Linked DNA regions of Homo sapiens: all the other regions are linked to region 2. Evidence: fine-mapped expression QTL. A gene starts in region 2. Each other region holds a variant in brackets. All regions are shown on one strand. Distances are between the middles of the regions.

What was found. PIP is the estimated chance that this variant, and not a neighbour inherited with it, causes the effect.
Region 1: its variant is fine-mapped to the expression of HEXA in lung (TOPMed, PIP 0.94).
Region 3: its variant is fine-mapped to the expression of HEXA in whole blood (TOPMed, PIP 0.92).

The regions. Positions count from the first base shown.
Region 1 is chr15:72,350,769-72,353,317 of GRCh38, reverse strand. HEXA (hexosaminidase subunit alpha) reads left to right here. Exons shown (of 14, transcript NM_000520.6): 5 at 140-250; 6 at 2,084-2,185. Among named protein-coding and RNA genes, the nearest start is that of HEXA, 24 kb to the left of the region's middle. The variant C/T (reference allele first, on the strand shown) is at 998.
Region 2 is chr15:72,374,408-72,377,255 of GRCh38, reverse strand. It overlaps HEXA (hexosaminidase subunit alpha), which reads left to right and starts at 1,242. Exons shown (of 14, transcript NM_000520.6): 1 at 1,242-1,536. The coding sequence starts at 1,284. It overlaps HEXA-AS1 (HEXA antisense RNA 1), which reads right to left and starts at 1,143. Exons shown (of 1, transcript NR_027262.1): 1 at 1-1,143. RefSeq lists enhancers at 483-532, 863-1,002, 894-1,450, 1,451-2,006.
Region 3 is chr15:72,338,193-72,341,040 of GRCh38, reverse strand. It overlaps HEXA (hexosaminidase subunit alpha), which reads left to right. Exons shown (of 14, transcript NM_000520.6): 14 at 1-117. Among named protein-coding and RNA genes, the nearest start is that of CELF6, 19 kb to the right of the region's middle. The variant A/G (reference allele first, on the strand shown) is at 1,452.

The sequences.
Region 1 (2,549 bases), 24 kb after region 2:
GAGCATTTAGGGAGAGAGCGACCCTGAGAACAGTCACAGATTGGCTTTTTAAGAATCCTGGGAGAGTTGTCTTCATCTCCCTGTGCCCCCATAGTAAGCTTCCTTTGAAACTGACATGTTCAATGTTTGTTCTGCACAGTTCTTTATCAACAAGACTGAGATTGAGGACTTTCCCCGCTTTCCTCACCGGGGCTTGCTGTTGGATACATCTCGCCATTACCTGCCACTCTCTAGCATCCTGGACACTCTGGTAACCAGGCCTTAAGGCCTTCTTCACACTTAAGAGTTCTAGGGTGATGGAGCAACGGACAGACCAAGTTCCAAATTCTTAAAGAGTTAGAGAGGGAATGTATGGACTGGGTGTGGTGGCTCATGCCTGTAATCCCAACACTTTGGGAGGCCGAGGTGGGCGGATCACCTGAAGTCAGAAGTTCAAGGCCAGCCTGGCCAACATGGTGAAACTCTGTCTCTACTAAAAATACAAAAATTAGCTGGGCATGGTGGTGCATGCTTGTAATCCCAGCTACCTGGGAGGCTGAGGCAGGAGAATCGCATGAACCCAGGAGGCAGAGGTTGCAGTGGGTGGAGATCACGCCACTGCACTCCAGCCTGGGTGAAAGAGTGAGACGCTGTCTCAAAAAAAAAAAAAAAAATTGTATGTAATTCTATGAGCTCCTGGGAAAAATGTAGAAGATGAGCTGCTCCAAGACTCAAAAAATAACAGAGTGACTTAAATCTACCTTACAGGCTACTGTAGATCAATGTTCAGGCTGTTTCCAGGGATACAAATGTTTAGGGGAATTGGCTTCATTGGCAGAGCTAACTATATTTGTTTTTGAGACAGCGTCTCAATTTTTTTTTTTTTTTTTTGTATTTTTTGTAGAGCTGGGGTTTCGTCATGTTACCCAGGCTGGTCTTGAACTCCTGGGCTCAAGCAATCTGCCCACCTTGGCCTGCCAGAGTGGTAGAATTACAGGCATGAGTCACTACACCTGGC[C/T]GGCAGAGCTAACTTTAGTTAGAACAAGGTCATAGGAGAGAGACGTTCAAAGCCTTAACTTGGGGCCAGGTGCAGTGGCTCACACCTGTAATCCTAGCACTCTGGGAGGCCAAGGCGGGTGGATTGCCCGAGCTCAGGAGTTTGAGACTAACCTGGCCAAGACGGTGAAACCCCATCTCTACTGAAAATACAAAAAATTAGCCAGGCGCGATGGCGCAAACCTGTAGTCCCAGCTACTCAGGAGTCTGTGATGGGAGAATCACCTGAGCCTGGGGAGATCAAGGATGCATGAACTGTGATTGCACCACTGCACTCCAGCCTGGACAACAGAGACCCTGTCTCAAAAATAAATAAATAAATAAATAAGTGAAGGAAGGAAGGAGGCTGAGGCATGAGAAGCACTTGAACCTGGGAGGTGGAGGTTGCAGTGAGCTGAGATTGTGCCACTGCACTCCAGCCTGGGTGACACAGCAAGACTCTGTCTCAAAAAAAAAAAAAAAAAAAAAAAAAGCCTTTCCTGGGGAAGTTCCTAACTCTCTTGAGTTTAATGTGCAGTCTTATCTGACAGTTCCCAATCCAGTTCCTGTGTCTGCCTTTTCCTTTGCTCCTGTGACGGAACCAAAGGAGGCCACACATCTGCCAGCCTTTGCTTCTGAGATTATGAGTTAAGAGGCTACTAAGTTCCCAGGAGGTCTCACAGTTGGGCTTAACATCAGTCAGACAACCGAACACAAATGGCAAGAGGAAGTATTGATCTTCAGGCTTTTGGAAGATTCCAGGCTACCACAGTAGCTGCAGCCCTCCTCTTAATGTGGCCAGAATTTATTTCAAGAAGAGGAAAGACCACTTCTATCATCCATCTTTGGATGTGTTCTGGGAAAAGTAGAAGTGTGCTGGGCCTTCCCTCCATGCCATCCCTCCCTGATGGGAAGGTTTGATAGACCCCATAAATACTTAATTGAGAGCTGAGGCAGGTCAAGCCTGTAGGGGTGTGTGGAGCGGCCTGAGAGCTCGCCCAACATCGCAAGTTTGAGGCTGAAACCGGAGAGACTGTGATGGGTTCACAGTGTGCACTTTAACCTACAGGATGTCATGGCGTACAATAAATTGAACGTGTTCCACTGGCATCTGGTAGATGATCCTTCCTTCCCATATGAGAGCTTCACTTTTCCAGAGCTCATGAGAAAGGTATGTTCCCGTTTCACTCAGACCAAGTTTATGGGTCAATGTCTGAATCTGGCTGTGGCCCTGCTGGCAAGAACAGGGTCTCTCATCCTAACCAGCCAGTTTTAGACCAATATAGGGGAAGGACACTGGATTTGGAGTCAGGAGACTTGAGTTCAAGTCCAAAACTTTGCCGATAATTTGCCTTGTGACCTTCAGGAGAGAATCTCTTCTGGCCTTATTCCCTTTTTATGTATTTATATTCTGTTAAATGGACATAGTATTAATACCTACCATGATTATCTCACTGGCATTATGATACTCAGATAAAACAGATGTGATAACTTCTGGGAAATTATGATCAAGTTTTTTGAAGATAGTCCCTGAC
Region 2 (2,848 bases):
GGGACTACAGGGATGTGTTATCATGCCCAGTGAAAGCCCTTTATTTTTAAAAGTTCATTTTCCTGATCTTTACATGTATTTTAATACTAAAATTAAATTTAAAAATTTTAAAAAGTACCTACTAACCAAATAATGCCACCCAATAACAATAGCATTATTTGTATTATGTTCTGGTAATATAGTGGTGAACAAGGAAGACAGGGTCTCTGATAACTGTGGAATTCTCCTTGATCACTTCTCAAGCCTCTCTTCCGGATACTATTTCTTGGATCTACAGCTGTCTTCCTTCCCCACTTCTGTAGTTCAGTCTCTCATTATTCTCTACCTCCAATAAAAAGGGGCCTCCTAACTGGTTTCTTATGCAACTACTCAACATGGTATTTCTAAAATGCAGATCTTTCGGGATGATTTTCAATTGCTCAGAGAATAAATTCCTTGACTTTCTACGTAAGGCCCTGCAGGACCAGGCCCCTGTCATTATCTCTGAGCACTCTCCATCTTGCACCCAAAGCCCCAGCAATATCTTACTGCTTTCAGTAAATACACACCGGGCTATGTGGGGTTTTGTCTGGGGAAAGGGGATGTGAGTTGTAACTAAGAGATTTATAGTCAATCTTGAAGGGAAGAGCTCATATTGGAGGCAATGGAATGCCTCAAGCTGGCTCTGAAAGTACACATTTTTTCCAGTCATAAGTAGATCACATTTGTGTGATCTTGTGATCCTCTCTCTAGCAGAGCCGTGCAGACTACCTACTTCCGGCCCTTTCTTGCCCCACGAAATTTCACATCACAACGACTTGTGGTTTTAATCCTCCGTTTTTCTGCTTCTGAAGTTACTTCAGCCTGGCAAGTCCTTTACCTCCCCGTAGGCCTGGCGAGCTGCATCACAACATTCAAGATTCACCCTAGAGCCATCTGGGAAACTTTCTTCTCCAGGTCGCCCTGCGTCCTCGCCTCCCCACCCCGTTCTTCTCGAGTCGGGTGAGCTGTCTAGTTCCATCACGGCCGGCACGGCCGCAGGGGTGGCCGGTTATTTACTGCTCTACTGGGCCCGTGAACAGTCTGGCGAGCCGAGCAGTTGCCGACGCCCGGCACAATCCGCTGCACGTAGCAGGAGCCTCAGGTCCAGGCCGGAAGTGAAAGGGCAGGGTGTGGGTCCTCCTGGGGTCGCAGGCGCAGAGCCGCCTCTGGTCACGTGATTCGCCGATAAGTCACGGGGGCGCCGCTCACCTGACCAGGGTCTCACGTGGCCAGCCCCCTCCGAGAGGGGAGACCAGCGGGCCATGACAAGCTCCAGGCTTTGGTTTTCGCTGCTGCTGGCGGCAGCGTTCGCAGGACGGGCGACGGCCCTCTGGCCCTGGCCTCAGAACTTCCAAACCTCCGACCAGCGCTACGTCCTTTACCCGAACAACTTTCAATTCCAGTACGATGTCAGCTCGGCCGCGCAGCCCGGCTGCTCAGTCCTCGACGAGGCCTTCCAGCGCTATCGTGACCTGCTTTTCGGTTCCGGGTCTTGGCCCCGTCCTTACCTCACAGGTGAGTCGGACTTGTCCCGCCCTGTTCCTGGGCCCTGAGAGTGCCTGCCTGGGGACAGTTCCCCCAGGGCTCCAGAGACGCCCTATGGGCTTTTGTCCAGCCCTCTGATCACAGGCACTCCACTTCCTCCTCGAGCTGCATTAGGTTTTCATCCAAAGATAACTACTATAGGACTACGGTTCAATCAGGAGATTAATTTATGGAAAATACTGTGCCAGCAGAAATCTAAGGTGATCCTTCTGACCGTGTTCAAGCTAGCCAGGGTCCTAGTGAGACTGTGAGCAAGGGCTGAGTAGAGACCAGAGAAAACACTCAAAATTGGGGAGACATAATACAAGAACTATGCAAAGTTACATACAAGTTTCTGGCACATAGAATGTTTGGCGGGCGGATCACGAGGTCAGGAGTTCGAGACCAGCCCGGCCAACATAGTGAAACCCCGTCTCTACCAAAAACACAAAAAATTAGCCAGGCGTGGCGGCGCGCGCCTGTAGTCCCAGCTACTCGGGATGCTGAGGCAGGAGAATCGGTTGAACCCATGAGGTGGAGGTTGTGGTGAGCTGAGATCGCGCCACTGCACTCCAGCCTGGGCAACAGAGCAAGACTCCCTCTCAGAAAAACAACCCCCCCCCCCAAACAAAACAAAACAAAACAAAAAAAGTGTAAATTGTGAAAGAAATCATAGAACATAAGGAAGTGAGTTTCCAGCGGCCACTTGGAATGGGATGGTAGATGTAATTAGCCGGGACTGAAAAGAGGGTATTCCAGGCAGGAAGAAGGGCTTGAGCAGAGGCACAAAGAATTATGATTGAGTTCAAAGTTCAGGTCTAGTGGATGTGATGAGTGGGGGCTGGGGATTGAGGAGGGATGAGGGTGGGGAAAATGTGGGGTTGAAGAGTCAAGAGCGCTTTAGACATTGGTTTCACATAAAATGGAAGGGGCTAACAGTTTTCTTTTAGGCAGCTATGTAATCAGTACTGAAAATTGTATTTGAGGATAATTATTCCACAGCACATTTGTAAGTCGAGCCAACAATGTAAAGGAATACAATTCTGCTGCATGGGTTCAAAATTTAGAAGTTTCTTGATAATCTGGAATCTAGCTCTTTGGTTATATTGTATAGATGTTATGGGGGTGGGAGCCACATTTACGGTTAAGTCTTGTAGTAATATTTTATATGATGTTTCAAGTGTGTTTAAATTACTTTCACAAAAGTTATCATTTGATATATAGAATTAAAAGCATTTAATTATACAGATGACCCTTAGAGAGTGACATTTGATTTGGGGAAAGAAACACAATCTCAGCATCA
Region 3 (2,848 bases), 36 kb after region 2:
GTGTCACATACTTTTTTTTCCACGAAGAAAAAAAATAAGTAGGAATTGGGTGCTTTGTTTATCAAAATTTGTATTTCCTTTATAAATAAACTTTGAAATAAAGGTTGAAAATTAGTATCTTTTCTAGCCGAGCCACCATTGTTTTTAAAAATCCTCTTTGAAGCAGGTGTGTGTGTGTGTGTGTGTGTGTGTGTGTGTGACGTTTTTCAACAAAATTTTTAAAAATCGAAATGTCAGGGTCAGGTGCAGTGGCTCATGCCTCTAATTCCAGCACTTTGGGAGGCCGATGTGGGAGGATTGCCTGAGCTCAGGAGTTAAAGACCACCCTGGGCAACATGGTGAGACCTGATTTCTACTAAAAATTAAAAAGATTAGCTAAGAATGGTGGTGTGTGGTTGTAGTCCCAGCTACTCAGGAGGCTGAGAAAGAAGGATCACTTCAGCCTGGAAGATTGAGGCTGCAATGAGTCATGATCACACCACTGAACTCCAGCCTCAGCAACAGGGTGAGACCATGTTTCAAAAAAAAGAAAAAAATTTAAATGTCCAGGAACCTTGCTTTTTTCACAGTAATTACTGTACTCTAACCACACCCATGTTTAGTCTAAACTATCCCAGTAAATACTCCTATTTTTTAGTGATTTCAAATGTTTCAAACAACAGAAAAGTCTAGAAAATAGTAAACAGTGTAACCACCCAGCTTTGTTGCATCTCAGTAGTCATATTTGCTTCAGATTTGTTTTTTTTAAACAAAAAAGATGAAACATTATTAATATCCCCCTTCCCAATGCTATTCCCTTCTCCAAAAACAACTGTTTTCCAGAATTTCTTTTTAATCTTATTTCCTCTGGAGAATCTGATACTTAGCTGTGATTTTTTTCATCACTTAATAAATTCTTTATGGCTCACTCTTTATAGCAAATTAGAAAGAGATGTTTTGGAAGCCACTCAAAAAAGGGAGTGTGTGTGGGAAAGGAGGAAGAGCAGCTGGCAGGCAGACACAGATGGGAAGGGGTGCCATGCTCGCTGGTGTGCTGCAGAGTGTGTGAGTGAGAGCGTGTGTCTGAGTGTCTGGATGATCTATTATGAAAGAGGATATTTGAACATAGGAACTCAACTGCTGGTGTTTATCTAGACTCACATGAGTCAGAAATCTGAATGAAGATAGATGTGGAGATCCAGCTAGGAGAACAAAAGTGCTTCGTCATTTTTATGTGCTTGCTGTGTCAGGCACTTTTGTTGTTTTTTTTTTTTTTTTCTTTTCTTTTTGAGATGGAGTTTTGCTCTTGTCACCCAGGCTGGAATACAGTGGTGCAATCTGGGCTCACTGCAACCTCCACCTCCCGAGTTCAAGCAATTCTCCTGCCTCAGCCTCCCAAGTAGCTGGGACTACAGGCATGTGCCACCACACCCTGCTAATTTTTGTATTTTTAGTAGAGACGGGGTTTTACC[A/G]TGTTGGCCAGGCTGGTCTCAAACTCCTGACCTCAGGTGATCTGCCCACCTTGGCCTCCCAAAGTGCTGGGATTACAGGCTGAGCCACCAAGCCCGACCTGTCAGGCACTATTATAAGCACTTTACTGGATGTTAATGTATTTAATCCTCATCCCAACCAATGTGCTATCAATATTATCCTCATTTGACAGATAAGGAAACAAACATAGGAAGGTTAAGTGACATCTATATGGTTACACAGCTACGCTGAGTCCCGATTAGCACTGGGGAGTTGCAGGGCATATGACTCCTAACTCAGCTACCTAACTCTAGCCCCTACTGCCTTCAGCCACTGTCCTGGGCTGCCCCACGTCAGACATCTTCCTCCTCTCGGACACCAAATACAGACATACAGATAAAGCTAGCAACTCAGCTATTTCTGGGCTCGAATCCATTTCTTCTCCTATGTTTAAACAAATAAAATTAAAACCTCTCAGTCCACTTTTATTAGTCAAGCTGCCTGAAACAGTTGCAAGTTTGTCTATTTCACCACTTTGCATTCAGCCCTCATGACCCCACAGTTGGGCTGTAATCCTCATAAGGGCCGCTTCCACTAAGGCCAACAATAACCTACATGTTGCCAAATCAAGGGACATTGCTCAATAATAAGGAAAAAAATTACTTGATCTTTTCGCATATTTTTGAGATTTTGATCCCTCCCTCTTTGAAATTCTTTCTTCGCAGGCTTTTGTGACACCATTCTTTCCTGAGTTTCTCAATGTCTATCACTGACTCCTTCAGTAAACTCTCAGCCCATAACCAAGGTTTTGTCTTCTTTTTTTTTTTCTTCTTTGAGACAGAGTCTCGCTCTCTTGCTCTATTGCCCAGGCCCTAGTGCAGTGGTGCAATCTCAGCTCACTTCAACCTCCGTCTCCCAGTCTCAGGCGATTCTCCTGCCTCAGCCTCCTGGGTAGCTGGAACTACAGGTGTGCACCACCACACTCGGCTAATTTTTTCGCATTTTTGTAGAGACAGGATTTCGCCATGTTGGCCAGGCTGGTCTTGAGCTCCTGAACTCAGGTGATCCACACACCTCAGCCTCCCAAAGTGCTGGGATTACAAGCATGAGCCACAGCACCTTACCTTTCCTCTTATACTTTCTTCCTAGTGATCTCATTTAGACAGTCTTAGTGTGCAGTCTTACACCTGGACAGCCATAGATAGATAGGTAGGTAGGTAGGTAGATAGACAGATAGATTAGACAGATAGATAGATAGATAGATAGATAGATAGATAGATAGATAGATGATAGACTGACCGACAAACATATATATAATATATGTATGTGTATTTCCTCTGGGGTCCAAGCTCAGGTAGCCAACATCTTCATATCATCTGAATGTCCATTACGTACTTAA